Linked DNA regions of Homo sapiens. The protein of the gene in region 2 purifies or fractionates together with the protein of the main gene of each other region. This does not show direct contact. Each region holds a gene or a part of one and is shown on either strand. Other genes may lie near its edges. The genes, in order: KDM5C, TRIM35 and PPP2R1B.

Evidence for each region.
Region 1: the proteins of TRIM35 (region 2) and KDM5C purify together in Homo sapiens (affinity purification with mass spectrometry; 2 studies listed by BioGRID and IntAct, with this or other methods). This does not show direct contact.
Region 3: the proteins of TRIM35 (region 2) and PPP2R1B purify together in Homo sapiens (affinity purification with mass spectrometry; 2 studies listed by BioGRID and IntAct, with this or other methods). This does not show direct contact.

Annotation. Positions count from the first base shown.
Region 1 is NC_000023.11:53,197,569-53,201,317, forward strand, and holds part of KDM5C (lysine-specific demethylase 5C), read right to left. Parts: intron 1,591-3,749; coding exon 1,409-1,590; intron 1,378-1,408; exon of another isoform or gene 1,321-1,377; coding exon 1,196-1,320; intron 1,070-1,195; coding exon 922-1,069; intron 309-921; coding exon 203-308; intron 1-202. UniProt on the Homo sapiens protein: Histone demethylase that specifically demethylates 'Lys-4' of histone H3, thereby playing a central role in histone code. Does not demethylate histone H3 'Lys-9', H3 'Lys-27', H3 'Lys-36', H3 'Lys-79' or H4 'Lys-20'.
Region 2 is NC_000008.11:27,304,550-27,308,298, forward strand, and holds part of TRIM35 (E3 ubiquitin-protein ligase TRIM35), read right to left. Parts: intron 295-3,749; exon of another isoform or gene 212-294; intron 1-211. UniProt on the Homo sapiens protein: E3 ubiquitin-protein ligase that participates in multiple biological processes including cell death, glucose metabolism, and in particular, the innate immune response.
Region 3 is NC_000011.10:111,752,663-111,756,411, forward strand, and holds part of PPP2R1B (serine/threonine-protein phosphatase 2A 65 kDa regulatory subunit A beta isoform), read right to left. Parts: intron 2,789-3,749; coding exon 2,633-2,788; intron 2,433-2,632; coding exon 2,318-2,432; intron 1,908-2,317; coding exon 1,837-1,907; intron 916-1,836; coding exon 781-915; intron 1-780. UniProt on the Homo sapiens protein: The PR65 subunit of protein phosphatase 2A serves as a scaffolding molecule to coordinate the assembly of the catalytic subunit and a variable regulatory B subunit.

The DNA.
Region 1 (3,749 bases), on a different chromosome or scaffold from region 2:
TACCCTTGCCACCTGACCCTCAAGGCCCATTTCTAACAGACAAGTCACTAGACCCTTGCCTCACCCCTCCCACCTGTTCTTTTCTCACACGTGTGTCCTGTCTTGCCTGAACACTTTAAGCTTTTGAAAGGAGCCAAGCATGGCCTGCTGCTCAGGTCCCCTGGTCCCCTTGATCCCTCATCAGCACTCCAAGCGTCCTCACCTTGACATCCCCAATCTGGTGCATGGCGCAAGGCAGGTTGTTCATCTGGTCCAGAAAGGCCCGGAGCTCAGTCAGGGTCATCTGTAGACCAGCCACCCTGTGGGGGCTATGAAGTATCACATGTGAGGTTTCAGGTCCAAACTCAGTGCCTTCCCTCCATGTCTATGCTAAGACTGAACACCTTTCCTCACTACACCTGTCCACCTTGATCTCGCATATTTCAAATTTGCCCCAATTGCCCAGGTTAGAGGGAAGGTTTTAAATTATAGAGCATGTTCATATTATGAGGGGAAAGAATTAGAAACTAATGGGTTGTAATAAGAGCTACACTTTGCAATCCATCCTCTACTGTGAACTCTAAAGCTGTGTTAGCAGGGATCAGGTCTATACATCTTTGTCCTGTTCTTACCCGTAAGCCTCCCACAACTCTTCCCTGCCCACAAAACCCCTCAGCCTCTCTCTCAGGCCACTTCCAGGTACTGATAAAAAATAAACACTTCTAGCTTTCTTATCACAGAGGCTCTCCTCTCCTTTTTAGGTGGCCTGGTCTCCTTGTCCCCCCCAACACCTTCCAGGCCATCTCACACTCTTGTGCCTGGCAGCTTCCTGCTGATGTCCATTCTGCCAAATGGTATTCACAGTCTACCCCTTGCAGCACTTTTCCTCGGTGCTGGATCCTCAGCACCTTATGTGTGCCCTAACTCCTCACGCTGTCATACCCAGCTTCCTGGCCGCTGACCAGTCCCAGAGCTCGGGACACGCAAGCCTCTGCCTCACTCAGGCAGTTCTTTAGTTGCTGCAGCAGCTCACTATTAGGAAACCTCCGCTCACGGGCTTCAGACTCTAGTGCCCTCAGTTCTTCAAGGCCTGGAAGAAAAATGAGGGCAGCAAAGAGTAGGCAGTATTGAATAGAGGCAGAGGAAGGGGGTCAGAGTACAGAAGAAAGGGAATAGAACTTGCCTGTGGAGTCCCTCCATCCCCCCCATCACTCACTGCGCTTCCGCCCATCCTCCACCTCCAGGGCCACTCGCACTTTGTTGGCCCAGGTGTCAAAGGACTCAGCCCGAACCTTCAGCTTATGCAGCATGGCAGGAAGCTCATCCAAGGTATACCGATACCTGGAGGAAGAGGGCAGGCAAGAGCATGTCTGGCCCAGCTCTCCATCCTCCTTCTTGCCCCACTTCCTCCAGAAAGGCCCATGCTCACCGCAGGTACTGCCGGCTACTGGAGCACTTGCAGAGATCATTGATGTGGGAAAGGCAGACAAGGCCGTCTGGGCAGTCGTAGCAGGCCAGGGCTGACAGGAAACACGTAGTCTTGCACTTGATACACTGGCGCTCATCATCTGGGAGCAGCTCGAAAGCCTCTCGCTCAGCCTCTGTGATACCCTAAGGGCATTTAACCTATGCGTTATATATAACCAGAACCAGGTAGCAAAATCCTCCATCTCAGCCACCACCGACCCCTACTTTAGATTCAAATCTATGCTGAGGGTCATGGGGTTTAAGAGGCCAAACCCCAGGGAGCATACCTGCCCTTTGTAAAGTCTAGACTCTCAAAGCTTGGGGAATCAGATAAACCAGGGCAAGATCAGTGTGCGCTGAGTCAGATAATTTTATAGAGGAAGAAAAATCAGGTAAGATCCAGATCAGCAGAAAGGGTCTTGTGGGTGAGAAGTGAGGAAAGTGGTGGACCAAGATACCAGAGAGGTGGCAATGAGTGCAAGTGGCCAAGGGACAGGCCTGGCTAGTTATGTGTACTGGGGAACAATATCGGCTTCCAGTTACTCAGAGCCCACTGTGTTCCAGGCACCACGCTGGCCACTTAGTAGGCAGGAGATACTTGTGCACATATATAACTTAGAGAAATTCAACCGTATGTGCTTGTGTTCAGGGTTTAAAGAGATATAATAATTTTCTCCCAACAATATGGTTTCCAAACCTAATCCAATGACTTCATCTGTTGCTCAGATAAAGAAAAAGCAATCCATTTCAAAAATGAAGGAAAAGCTGGCTATATTGGAGTAATCGAGAGACAACCCAGTGTGTATATCTAATGGGCAATTTTAGGGATTTTAATGGGAAATGTCAACTCTTAACAGTTTTTGTCTTACATACCAACTTTAACACCTAATCTCTGCATAAGTTATGAGCCCAAATCCCACTCTGCCACTTATATGCTGTGTGATCATGAGTAAATCATTTAACGTCTCTGGGTCTGTTTCATTATCTAGTAAGATGGAGATAAACAGTATCATCCTTGTTGGGTTGTTATGAGGATTAACAAAAATAAAGCAGCTATGGAATCAGACAAGTATCTCAGCACTTAGATTCAGTGTTCATCAAATATTTACTGTTATTAGCTCTAATTTTCAGATAAGAATATATATTCCACAGGCCTATCTCATTTTACTAAGGCAGAAACTAAGTCTCAGGGTCAGTAACTTGCCAAACTGAGTTAATTTTGACTCTAAAGCCAGAGAATATTCTAAGGATGAAGTCTCTAGGGTTTTTTTGGACTACAGACTCCTGAGAATTGGATGTAAACTATAAGTCCTCTTCCCAGAAACATACTTAAATACACATACAATCTCTTACAGGATTCCAAGACTATGGTGTCCAGAATGCTTCTCTGAGGTAAGGGCCAAGTGTGAAGAATTCTGAATGTCAAGATGAGAAGGTCTATTCTCCCCACCTTGCTTTGGCTCCTTCCCACAGCTTGGCACAGCCACACGGCCATCATTTAATAACAGTACTGAACAGAGTGAGAAAATGATGCCTGGAAAAGCCCAGGGACTCAACAACTTACACCACGACTGAGAGGCCCCAGACTTCCAACACTACTGTAGCTATAGTTCTCCCTATAGCCCACACTCACAGGAAAGCTATAAATGAGCTTTAAAATAAGAAAGTATTACCCTAGATAGGCAGCAAGGGATCCCACAGAACCAGCACTCCTTTGTAATCTTATGAAAGACTCTCACAAAGTCAATTCCCTAACTGGGCAAGTGTGAAATTTGAAGATGATGGCTGAAACTACACGAGTGGACTTTAGAGCTCTGTAGCAGCTTCCACTCAGCTACACACACAACTGACACAAGCTTACAAGAAATCAATTAAAGCAGGACCACCTTCAGCTTGGTAATATTATTGCCCTAGCTGGAGTTAATAAACCATCTGCATGTAATAAAATGGCAATTCCTGAGAAACATTCCAAATTTCAATCAGTTTCTTCATGTATTAACATTACCAATAATAGCAGCTGCAACATTGCAAAGGCAATGTTAGAGAGATGGCTTTCATATAAATCACCTTACTCTAACCTTACATCTTGCAAGTTAGGTATTTATTCCCACTTTAGAGTAGGAAAGTGAGATATGAAAGATCAAGTAACTTGATACAGTCACCTAGATAATCAGCAGTGAGGTTTCATATGCCAGTCTATTTTGCTAGGTCATGTAAATAATGATAAATAGCTGCTATACCAGTACCTGCCATGGGTCAGTCACTAAGCAAACATTATCTTTAATACAATCAACTATCCAAAA
Region 2 (3,749 bases):
TCTTTCCTGAGGGCAGGTCTTAACCTCCAGGTCCTCTCTACCTTGCATAGTGGTGCTCGGTACACTTCTGCAGAAGGAATGCTTGCTCTGCAAGGTGAGAGACTTTGTTTTGTCCCCTGCATGTCCAAGTCCCTGCACAAAGTAGATGTTCAGTTAACCACCTGCCCAGTCAATGAGTACATGGAATGCCTGTGTTTTTTCTGCTATATACCTTGCCTCCTGGACTGAAGGTTAGGAGAGCTGGTTTGGAGCCTTGTCTTTGTCACTATCCACTGGTGAGTTGGTAAAAAGTTCCTTCTCTCTTCGGCTATCAGGCTCCTCACCTTAAAAATGAAAGCAGAGAAGTCTCTACAGTCTCCCAAATTTCACGATTTGTTTTCAGGCAGATTGATGTAGCAGCCAAGAGTTCTGGCACCTGGCCGACCAGGTTCAAATCCCAGCACCTCTACCTAGTAGCAGGTGATCTTGAACATGTTCCTTCACTTCTCTGCACCTCCATTTCCTCATCTGGATAAGAGGGATAAAAAATACTACCAAGCTCAAAGGACTGCTGTGAGGACTCCACAAATCAATCCCTATAAGATGCTTACATGAGAGTGGCAGGCACATGCTGTGCATTCGGCATAGCTCTTAAGTGCCACCTACATGCCAGGTAACCTAACTGTCCTGCTGGATATGGTCCAGGTTTCTTAAATGAACAGTAAAAATGCATGGAGCTTTCTTATGCAACTCCAAATCAGTCTCCCAGATCTGTCTTTCCCCTTTGTGTTCAGACCTCCTTCCAAAGCAAGTGTCTGCCATGCAGCCCACTGCTGGAGGCCATCACTCAGGAGCCTCAGTGTGCAGGGTCTAGTGAGACACCCCCCACTCCCAATACCACTGGGCACAGGCCTGGACAAGCAAGCAAGCAACAATGTCCTCTGGTGCAACCAAAGAGCTGGTAAGTCCTCACCTAGAAGCTGGGGATCAGGATGGGGGTGAGTGGTTAGGAAATGGGGAAAAGCATTGGAAGGGGGAAGACCTGGAATGTGGCTTAAGAGGTATCGAGAGTACCCTTGGGTTAGATCCAGCCAGATGGACTCTAAGATGTTGACGCCAGAAGGGGAGAGAGGGCTGGAGCTGGGACAGGGAGAGGCTGGTGGCAAAGAATGGTCATCATGCCAGTCCTGCAAGATGGATAAGACAAGGGTCTGCACAAGGCAGCTCAGCACAGGGCTGCTGTAGAAGATGCAAGCTGGAGAGTGCTGGACTGGGAGGCAGGAAACCTGAGTTCTGATCCTAGAACTTTATTTATTTATTTATGTAAGATACAGGGTCTCACACTGTTGCCCAGGCTGGATGCAGTGGCCCAGTCATAGCTCACTGCACCCTCGAATGCCTGGCCTCAAGCAATCCTCCCATCTCAGCCCCTCGAGTAGCTGGGACTACAGGTATGTGCCACCACACCCGGCTAATTTTTTTCTTCTTTGGTGCAGGATCTTGAACTACTGGCCTCAAGCAATCCTCCTGCCTCAGCCTCCCCAAGCACTGGGATTACAGGCATGAAACACACTGGCCTTGATCCACTTCTCATTACTTAGATGTAACCACCTCCTCACAAGATGTAACCATTCCATCACAATAGAATGACGCACGGTCTGTGTCTGAGGATGTTTTCATTTAATGGCAACCTAAACCAAACCTAAGACAATCCTACTCCAAGCCACGACATAAACAGCGCTGACACATGCTTTCAGTTCACAACTTCATCATCAGCATTCGTATTTTCTTTTTTTCTTTCTTTTTTTTTTTTTTGAGACAGTGTCTTGCTCTGTCGTACAGGCTGGAGGGCAGTGGCACGATCTCGGCTCACTGCAACCTCCATCTCCCGGGTTTAAGCGATTCTCCTGCCTCAGCCTCCCAAGTAGCTGGGACTACAGGTACCTGCCACCATGCCTGGTTAATTTTTGCATTTTTAGTAGAGATGGGGTTTCACCATACTGGCCAGGCTGGTCTCGAACTCCTGACCTCGTGATCTGCCTGCCTCGGCCTCCCAAAGTGCTGGGATTACAGGCATGAGCCACCACACCCGGCCACCATTCATATTTTCTTAACAGCTTACTTGATATCAAGACATGACTTTCATCGTCTTGTCCTGATAAGGAAAGAAGAGAAATACACATAGCAGGTAAAGAATGTGCCGGACCCAAATGAAGGCCAATCCCGTAACAAGAAAGCTCCAGAGCTCTTCAGAGAAATTTGGGCGGATTAAGTAGTCACTTGGAACAGAGTAATGGGAGAATCAGAAGTATCTTGGCCAGGAGTAGAGATTTTGTTCCAGCAAAATAAAACTTTAGAATTAATATTTTAAGTGGAATGTTATTGATTATAGTTTTGTATTCAGTCTGTTCACTTCCTTTTGTTTTATTGCTTATATGTAGCATGAGCAAGTGCTATTTATACCAGGTTTGCATTTGTATGCATGTAAATAATAACATAATTTAACTCTCACTGGCTAGACTATTTTTTCCTTTAAGAAGAATGCATACTTGTTCAAGTTTGAGAAACGCCAGACTAGGATTTCTGAAGGTCCTTCCAAGCACTGTTCCTTGCTACAGCTCTGCTGTAAACATGATGCCAGGCTCCCAAATCTCATCAGTCCTTCCATCATGCGCCACTGCACCTACGATAAAAATCCCAGCTCCTAAGCAGGGCCCTCTGTGTCCTGTGGGATCTGTCCTGCAGTTCCTCATCCCCACGTGAACCATCTCTCAGTCACTGCACACCCCCACGCTGTGCCCCGCCGCCACACCCCCGCCACACACACACACTGCTCGCCGCCCCTCAATCAGCTCCTCTCAGCGAAATCACTTCCTTGGAGACTCCTTCCCACACCCCACCAAACAAGAGCAGCCTCCCCCTTACAATCTCCCACCACATCCTGTACTGTCCTTCACAGGAATGTTGAGCTGAAACTATGTAATTATTAGTGAGATGATACAACCATGCCCACAAAGGCAAGGTCTAGGACTGTCCGGTCCTGTCCTGGACACAGTACTGGCACACAACCAGTACCTTCTGCCAGCCCTGACAATGGTCAACAGCCACTCCAACCCCTAACACACAGTCAGCTGCCCGCTGAAGTCTGAGATGAGAGAAACCTCTCTCAAAGTCCAGGACCAGTGTGTGAACTGAACAAGGCTCCAGGTGATCTTTAGAGCTACTTGCTCTGTGACTTTGGACAAGTTTCTTACCCTCTCTATGATTCTATAATTGTCTATAAAATGGGGATAATAGCACCTAACTGTAGCAAGCTGAATAATTATTTCCCCGAAAAGATGTCCCCATTCTAATCCCCAGAATCTTGTATGGCAAAAGGGACTGTGCAGATGATTAAATTAAGGATCTTGCTGTGGGGAGGTTATCCTGGATTACCTGGGTGGGCCCAATGTCATCACAGGGTCCTTATGAGAGGGAGGTAGTAGAACTGGTCAAAGAAGTCAAAGTGACAACAGATGCAGAACGGAATGACACACTTCAGAGCTGGAAGAAGGGGCCTCTGCAAGCTGGAGAAGGCAAGGAAATAAATTCTCCCTGGAGCCTCCAAAAGGAATGTAGCCCTGCAGACACCTCGATTTTAGGACTTCCAACCTCCAGAACCATAAGAGAACAAACTTGTGCTATTTTAAACCACCACATTTATTACGCAGTAACAGGAAACACAGGACCTGAAAATACGTTTTTGTGAGCATTAAATTTGTTGACGTGTG
Region 3 (3,749 bases), on a different chromosome or scaffold from region 2:
TCAGCTTTCTCATCTGTAAAATGGGATAATTGGCCGGGTGCGGTGGCTCACACCTGTAATCCCAGCACTTTGGGAGGCCGAGACGGGCAGATCACGAGGTCAGGAGATCGAGACCACAGTGAAACCCCGTCTCTACTAAAAATACAAAAAATTAGCTGGGTGCTGTGGCAGGCGCCTGTAGTCCCAGCTACTCAGGAGGCTGAGGCAAGAGAATGGCATCAACTCAGGAGGCGGAGCTTGCAGTGAGCAGAGATTGCGCCACTGCACTCCAGCCTGGGCGACAGAGCAAGACTCCGTCTCAAAAAACAAAACAAACAAACAAACAAACAAAAAGGGATAATAATAAGACCTACCTCACAGGATTGTTGTGAGAATTGCATGTAAAAATACATGCAAAGCACTAAGGCTCATGCTTGCCATGTAGTAATTACTCAGTAAATATTAGGTATCATTATAATTTTTGATACTATATTTAAACTTAAATAAATGAAACTTTTTAAACAAAGACACATTAGCTTTAAAGAAACCAGGGAGTATAAAGCAAAAATCAGGTAAAGATGATAAACAGATATTTCTAGGTTTACTCTAATGGGTACTTTTGCCCACTTTCTGAGGAACCTATAACCCCATACCCAAAATCACAGGTGTCATTGGTTTAAAATAAGTTATGATTTTTTTATCCATTTTCTTTTTGGGGGTTCTATTTTAATGAAACCCTAAACCAAAATCAAATAAAATCAAATTACTATCAAAGGCAACAGAACATAAAGCAAGACCCACCTCATCCTTTAACTGAGCTAAGAAAAGAGGTAGAAGATGTTCAATGGTATTTTCTTTGCCCAAAATAGTAGACAATCCCATAATTACAGAAGCTAGAGCCGATTTGACATGTTGATTGGTATCGGATACTAATTCCTAAAATAAAATCGAAATTAAAAGCCTTTATTACAAGACAACAGAAACTTCCATACCATTATTCTGGGAAACAGAGTCTTGCTCTGTTGCCCAGGCTGGAGTGCAGTGGCATGACCTTGGCTCACTGCAGCCTCACCCTCCCAGGCTCAAGCACTTCAGCCTCCAGAGTAGCTGGGTCTACAGACATGCACCACCAGGCCTGGCTAATTTTTTTCATTTTTTGCAGAGACAGGTTCTTACTACATTGCCAGGGCTGGTCTTGAACTCCTGGGTTCATGCAATCCTCTTACCTTGGCCTCTCAAAGCGCTGGGATTACAGGTGTGAGCCACCACGCCTGGCCTAATTTTTTTTTTTTTGAGACAGTGTCTCACCCTGTCACCTAGGCTGGAGTACAGTGGCATGATCATAGCTCACTGCCATCTCAACCTCCTGGGCTCAAGCAATCCTCCCACCTCAGACTCCCAAGTAGCTGGTACTACAGGTGCATGCCACCAGGCTCAACTAATTTTTGTATTTTTTGTAGCAATGGGGTCTCACTATGTTGCCCAGGCTGGTCTCAAACTCCTGGGCTCAAGAAATCCTCCCACCTCAGCGTCCCAAAGTGCTTGGATTACAGGCATGTACCACCATGCCTGACCCCAAGGAATTTAAAGACAGCACTATTTCAATACTGATTAGTTGATAATGTTTCCTCAGACTACTTGTTAGGTAACATAAACCTATGCACCAAAGAGCAGTTTACAATTACAATGGGCTAATAAGTGATGAATAACAATGTTGCACATTAACACATCTTCCCCATTCATTCCCTGTCAACCTTTAAACTCAAAGAGCTTTAAGGTAAACAAACAAACAAAAATAATGAGATTAAGGTTTACCTTCATATAAAAGAGAGTGAAACAAAATAAAGTCAGGTTTACCTTTATATAAGGCAGAATTTGATTCATAATTATGGTCTCTCTATCTTCAATGGGCAAGTTCTCACCAAGTTCTAAAAGATAAATAGAAAAAAAGAATGCTTTCACAGGGCCATTTACAAAGAGCCAAATGAGGACATTTAACCAGGTTTATCAATAATTTCAATTAAATTATATGTTTAAGCAAATAAGGAAAACAGCTCTTGTTCTAAATAAACTTTTTCGTGAACTCTCTATGCCATTGCATATCACACCAATCCAACCTGAAAGGCATTTTTTTTTTTACAAAAACAAGACAAAATGATTTCTTGGTTTTAAATATAAAGAGACTATCTTTAAGTGACAATGTAACATTTCCACACACTAAAAACATCCCTATGTATTTTAAAAACATATTCTAGAACAAAAAACATGCAAAATTGACTAACAAAAAAATGCACCAAAATGAATGACACATGTTCCAACATAAATTGAACTCCTTAACCTTTTACTTTGTGGGCAGCAGCTGCCCGGACTTCAGCTTCACAGTCTTTAAGTAGGTTCTGAAAGGCGGGGATGAGGTCATTTAGGGTGATTTTAGGACCCATGGCTTTCTGGAGCTATAAAAGAATTTGAACGGGTTTTAATGTATACTAACAAAAGAATTAACAAGAACAAAACAAAATTGTGCAATCTGTAAATACATATTTTTGCCACAGCACTTCCCATTGAAAAGAATTAATTCAGAAACTTTGGGTACAACAGCAAATCTATGTGTTTTCAGGTTTATTTCCTTAGTACTTAAAAATGATCACTTTACCTCTGAAAATCTGTCAGCCACCATATAGCGAACGCGCCAAGATTTATCTTCTGCTGCTTGTCGAAGTGTAGGCATCACCAAAGTCTCAAGGTCATCCTGAGACAATAACTGGGCAATACTGACACAAGCTTCCACAGCAAGGAGGCGCACTGAATCCTAAAGGAACAAAATTTCTGTAATTCAGACATTTACTGAGACCCATGGGGAACTGCTGTGGGGTGGTGCAGGTGTTTAAAAAAATTAACACCACCAAGACTGCCACACCTTATATAGTTTCACGTCTTGACATCTTTTTCTTTTTTTTTTTTTTTTTGAGGCAGGGTCTCACTCTGTCACCCAGATTGGAGTGCAGTGGCACAATCTCCGCTCATTCCAACATCCGCCTCCCAGGCTCAAGTGATTCTCCTGCCTCAGCCTCCCGAGTAGCTGGGATTACAGGCAGGAGCCACCACGCCCAGCTAATTTTTGTATTTTTAGTAGAGACAGAGTTTCACCACGTTGGCCAGCCTGGTTTCAAACTCCTGACCTCAAATGATCCACCTGCCTCGGCCTCCCAAAGTGCTGGGTGCTGGGATTACAAGCGCGAGCCACTGCGCCTGGCCGTGTATTTATATCTTGAAAGAGCTGCTCCCGGCCGGGCCCAGTGGCTCACGTCTGTAATACCAGCACTCTGGGAGGCTGAGGCAGGCGGATCACGAGGTCAGGAGAGGGAAACCATCCTAGCTAACACGGTGAAACCCCATCTCTACTAAAAATACAAAAAAAATTAGCCAGGCGTGGTGGCGGGTGCCTGTAGTCCCAGCTACTCGGGAGGCTGAGGCAGGCGAATGGCGTGAACCCAGCAGGCGGAGCTTGCAGTGAGCCGAGACTGCACCACTGCACTCCAGTCTGGGCGACAGAGTGACACTCTGTCTCAAAAAACAAAAAGGAAAAAAAAAAAAAGAAAGAGCTGCTCCCTTTGCCTGGAATGGCATGTCAAAGTCATAAAGATAGAAATGACTTTGTACTATGAGTAAACAGCAAAGTAATTACCTTGGCTAGAATGCAGAGTTTCTATAAAGGAAATGAAAATTTTAAAATTAAGTAAAAAAGAAAAAAAAAACATTTTAATGATGCC